2 separate regions of the Homo sapiens genome follow, and region 2 is linked to region 1. A link means that fine-mapping ties the variant in region 1 to the expression of a gene that starts in the linked region. Tissue or cell type: caudate. Region 1 holds a variant in brackets; the other region holds the start of a gene. All regions are shown on one strand. Distances are from middle to middle.

Region 1 (2,500 bases):
CCCTCTACCCACCACCACCAAGAGGCCGCTGGGGGCACCGCCATGGGACCCTAAGACAGGGAGGAGCTCCGCTTCAGATTCCTGCTGTCAAACACCTCCTCCGAGACCCCTCCATGCAAACATCCTGGAGCAGGGCAAGCCCACTGCTTCTGTATTTGTATTTATGTTGTTGTTATTAATGATACCAACCCAGCCTTGACAGGCTCTTCCAGCCCTTGAGAATCAACCCTATCTTTGGACCCTGGGCACAGGCTCCAGCACACAGATATTCCCCAGCCCTGCCTCACACTCACCTCCTTCTCTCCACAGATGTTGCTGATGATGGAGCTGGAGGCTGGGCTGGACGATGGTCCGAGGACAGCGACCACCCCCTTGGGGAGGATCTGACACACTGCAGCCAGCGGCAGGGACAGGGAAAGAAGCAAAGCACTCATCAGGTCGGGCTTGCGCCATGGCCCAGTCCTCTCCTCTTCACCCGCTGCCCCCTCACCTTCTGCACACCCGCTGCCCAGGCCCCTGCTCCAACCCTTCGAAACCCAGAGTCTCTCCTTCTCCCCTGGACGACTGGGCTCCAGGACAGTTTTATTGGAGTTTATGGGCAGCATTAAATGAGGAAATGACCCAGGTTATGACAACATACGGCCATAGCCAACAGGGTGTATAAATTGTCTGGACTGTCACAGAAGGACAGAGGCTAATGGAACAAACCTGCAGATTCCATCCCACGGCCTGGCCTGGCCTGCAGGGGGGTAGGGGGAGCCCCAGCACAGCTGCTGCATTAGTCCCCCCAAATATAAAGAGAGTCTGGGAGAAGGAAGGCAGGCAGGCAGGCGGGGGTATGAAGGAGGGCGAGGATGACGCAGACAGGAAGAGAGCAGGGGTGGCTAAAGTCAAAAGGAGCGGAGGCAAGAAAAAGGGAAAGAAAATGGGAGGCAGGGAGAAAG[C/T]GAGAGGCAGAAAGAAGTTTCATCTGTCAATGCCCCCGTCGTTCACTTCGTCCTGAAGCCTGGCATGTTCCCTCCCCCAGGTAGAGCAGGTCCCGTCCTGACCGACCAGCATGCCTGGCATCTGGCCTTTCCCTCCTGGACTGAACACTCGCTCACCTGTCCGGGATCAGTTCTGACACCACCTTCTCCTTAGACCTTCCTGGGCTTATTTATGTATTTATTTATTGAGATGGAGTCGCACCCTGTCACCCAGGTTGGAGTGCAGTGGTGTGGTGCGATCTCGGCTCACTGCAACCTCCGCCTCCCAGGTTCAAGCAATTCTCCTGCCTCAGGAGTAACTGGGATTACAGGCACCCACCACCACGCCTGGCTAATTTTTGTATTTTTAGTAGCGACGGGGTTTCACCATGTTGGCCAGGCTGGTCTTGAACTCCTGACCTCAAGTGATCCACCTGCCTTGGCCTCCCGAAGTGCTGGGATTACAGGCATGAGCCACCGCACCCCACCACTGGGCTCCTTTAGATGGAATTAACACTGCCTTGGGCTCCCAAGGCCTGGGGTTCATACCTCTAGTCTAAGACACTGTATCTATTTGGGTTTGTTGTTTAGTGCTCTCCTCTCACTAGATTTCAAACCTCTTGAAGACAGGAACTGAGCCACATTTATCTCCCAATCCCCACTTCTCATCTCTTCAGTGTCCAGCACAATGCATTCTAGAGAGTAGGAGCCCAGCTCAGATTTGCTGTGTGAATGTCTAAAGGAATGGGATGTGTAATCAGAGGAGGGGGAGAGAATCTAAGATTTTAAAATGCTAGAGACTGAGAAAGGAAGGATGGGAGAAAGAGGGAAACACAGTGAGAGAGGACAGGAAAGAATTCTCCGTGCACACACTGTGGTATCAGAGCCAAGGGGCCGTCCCTCAGAAAATGCAATCGAGGTTCCCCACTGCATCCTTGTCTGCAAAACTCAAGGCTTAACTCCATATGTATTTTCTTCCTACTTGTATTAGGAGTCAGGCAGAGCAATTTCCCTGGCCTAGCAATTGAGGTTAAGGGACTAGTACAAGGTTTCTTACTGAGCCAGCTGTAAAGCCACACCTGCCACATGGACGCTCTTTCTTCTGGGTTAGAGTCCAATACAGCCAGGTGATCATCTGAACGGGGTACAGGCAGCAAGGCAGAACACCAGGGTTCAAATCCCAGCATTGCAATTTACCATATGAACTATAGATCTTGGAGTCTTCTCTTAGCCTATGGCTTGGGCAGGCATCCCACAACATCCCAAAATCTCAGCTGACTGGAGGACTCATCAGTACTAAGTGTCTGGCCAAAGTAGTGATGATCAGGCTTCATCTTTGAAGAGTCTCTTCAAATTCCAAGCTACTTCCATGGGGGTTATCTCATGTGACCTCAGCCAACTTAACTCTTACAGCCCACTAGGTGCTTGAAGTTCATCATCCCCTCAGATCCCTACAACTGCCTTGGGGGAGTGGGGTCTTATCTCCTGATTTTACTGGTAAGGACACAGCACCCCAGAGACGTGAAGTGCCTCCGCTC
Region 2 (2,739 bases), 300 kb after region 1:
CACTACCAACCAGGTGACCCATAGGGAGTGAAAGTGAAGGTAGTTCTTTGTTCCTGGCAGGGCTCAGTCCTCCTGACCAGCCCTCAGACCTCTTGGCCTGGTCTTGACAGCTGCCCACTGCCTGGCAAAAGGGCCCAGCTGTGCTCAGAGCTCCCCTCCTCTTCCCAGACAACCCAGACCCTTGGGAGACATGCCCAGGAGAGCCACTGGAGGGAGGCAGGGAGGTGGCACCGCGTGGCATCACCAGACAACAGCACCAAGAGGAAGATGGCAGCATCAAGTACAGATGCCAAGAGCCACGCAGCCCAAGGTCCAGCCCGGGAGTGGCTCGGCCCGCATTGCCCCACCACTGCCAGGCAGACGGGCCAGAGGCGCCCGGGGCCCAGCCCCCTCGGCCGCCTCCTCCACCACCCCAAGGCCCTCAGCCAACTCTCCCCAGGCTCCAACTCCTCCCCTCACTTTGCTCAGCTCAAGGGAGCCAGGGAAAGAGACACAGGTGCTCTCAGTGCCTTGAACCCCCTGTCCCAGCTGTCGCCTGCACGCCCTCCACCCCAGCCAGGTCGGAGCGCACAGCTCTGCCAGTCCTCACTGAAGAGAATCTAAATCAGCTCCCCTCCCCCTCCGCCCCAGCCCCCTCCCCCATCACGCGCCCATTGCAGGTCTCTAGAGTTTCTCCCTCACTTCCCACTCGGATGAACTAGGGTGGGATGGGTGGGAGCCCCATTCTCCCCGGGAAAGAGGATCATTTCTGATAGGACGCTGGTTCCCCCAAGCAAGGCGGTGTGCAGGGTGGGGGGGTGTGGTGGTGGCCCGAGTCCAGTGCAGGGGCAGGGGGCAGTCGAGGCAGATGGCAGTGAGGAAAGGGGGAGGGGGCTTGGTGGGATGCCAGGCTGAGCCGGGATGGGGGGCTGCAGCCGGGGAACAGAGGCGCTGGGAGAAGCGGAGGGTGACGAGGTGTAGGGGAGACGCGCCAGGCTGGGAAGGGGCTGTCATCCCTGCAGGGGACAGAGGCAGGGCTGGGAGTTGCACGGGGAGGGGGAGGACCAGAGCGGGAGGACCGCGAGCCCGGGGAAGGGATGCGGAGGGAGGGAGACGGACCGGGGTGAAGACTGGAGGAACTACGGGAGCAGAGCGGTGGGGGGTTCGGCGGCGAATCTGGAGACGCAGGGACCGAAGTGCCAGGGACCGGGCTGGCGGGAGGCGGGAGCGGGGAGGAGGGCGCGGGGGCGGGGGCCGGGGCAGGGGTGCGGGGCCGCGGCCCCCGAGGGCAGGAGCGGCGGAGACGTCAGAAGTCGGGGTGCGGGAAGGGCCAGCGCGGAGGGGACTCGGGGGCGCGGGGGCAGCGCAGGGAGCGGGCCGGGGGCGCCGCGGGGGGCCGCTGCCCTTACCTGGTCGGCTCCGCACTCCGGGGGCTGAGCCGGGGGCCGGGCGCTGCCGGGCCGGCCGCGGGGCTGCTGTTGGCCGTTTTTCCTCTTCCGCAGCAGCCGTGGCGGCTCCAGCCCGATCCGCCCGCAGCTGAAGGCAGTCTGTGTCCGGCTGCGAGCGAGCCCGGCGCGGGGAGCGCGGGAGGAGCGCAGCGAGGCGCGGGGCGCCGCCCGGCGGGCAGCTGGGGAACTGCTGCGGCCCCGCGCACGGCCGGCCGGGGGGGCGCCCCTTCGGGGCCGGGCCGGAGCCCCGCGGGCAGCTGCACGCGCCCCCCAGCGCCCCTCGGAGCGTCGCCCGGGAGCCCAGGCGCGGGGGCGGCGGGGGCGGCGGGAACGGCGGGGGCTGCTGCGGGCAGGGCGGGCGCGGGTCCGCGCGGCCGGGGGCAAACTTGCGGCTGCCCGGGGGCCCGGGGCCGAGCGAGAGGCGCCCGGCTGGGGAGCGGCGCCCGGCAGAGGCTAGGGGCGCGCGGCCAAGCGGGCTCTGCGAGGTACGGACCTCAGGTGGGGAACCCGGCGCAGCCCGCACACTCCACCGCCCTGCGCAAAGGGGCAGCCCGCCCCGGCCCCGAGGAGTTATTAGCCCGGCGGCTTCAGCGAGCAAGGGGCGCCCCCTGGTGGCATTCGGGAAACAGCGCGGGGGACGAGCGTGCCCCGTTAGAAGAGACTGCGGCCTCAGTGGTGCGGAAGATGGAGAGGTGGAGGTTTCATGGGACGAGACAAGAGCACCTTGTTCAGGAGACTGAAGAGCAACAGCTTGCATGGAGTCATTCCAGAGCACTGTTGTATACATACCAACATCTTGGGAGGATCTCATGTTACGCATGAAGATCCTGAGGCTAGGAGAGGTGAAGGGACCAGGCCAAGAACACACGGGGAGCAAGTGGCAGGACCCAGGAGGCAACCCCGCTTTCTGACGCGCGGTTCATTTCAGTACACCGTGTGGTTCATCCTAATACAACAGAGTTGCCCTTAGGAGGAGGCTGGGTGAAGAGGGAGTCCTGGGGGAATAGGAGGGAGGGCAAGGGACACGTGACCCCCTCAAACCTATTAGCTCCCTCTTATCCAACCCGCAGAGTCTCTGTCTTGGGCAGACCACCAAACTGATCACACCGGCCCTCTCACCTTCAATGGCCTGTATCCCCACACCCAACCACCAGCACTCCCACAATCTCATTAAGCTCTCTGTGAAGGGTTTGTTCACAGACGTCCTTGGTCAGGTCTCACGCATGAGGCATACTATCGGGACTATAGACTGTTCTGGACGTTGCATTCCCCGGGGAGGGCTGGCTGGCTAGCCTGGGCGCGTACTGGGCCT

Alleles and levels. Positions count from the first base shown, and alleles are read on the strand shown. Sizes are in standard deviations (SD) of each study's normalised expression.
As copies of C replace T in region 1, the expression in caudate of the gene that starts at base 1,528 in region 2 goes down (small effect, 0.22 SD a copy in GTEx).

What was found. PIP is the estimated chance that this variant, and not a neighbour inherited with it, causes the effect.
Region 2: it holds the start of GRIK4, and the variant in region 1 is fine-mapped to the expression of GRIK4 in caudate (GTEx, PIP 0.97).

What each region holds. Positions count from the first base shown.
Region 1 is chr11:120,813,269-120,815,768 of GRCh38, reverse strand. It overlaps GRIK4 (glutamate ionotropic receptor kainate type subunit 4), which reads right to left. Exons shown (of 21, transcript NM_014619.5): 5 at 294-391. It overlaps LOC105369532 (a long non-coding RNA gene), which reads left to right. Exons shown (of 3, transcript NR_133008.1): 2 at 310-437. Among named protein-coding and RNA genes, the nearest start is that of TBCEL, 210 kb to the left of the region's middle. The variant C/T (reference allele first, on the strand shown) is at 945.
Region 2 is chr11:120,510,537-120,513,275 of GRCh38, reverse strand. GRIK4 (glutamate ionotropic receptor kainate type subunit 4) reads right to left here and starts at 1,528. Exons shown (of 21, transcript NM_014619.5): 1 at 1,389-1,528. RefSeq lists silencers at 1,458-1,657, 1,838-1,917.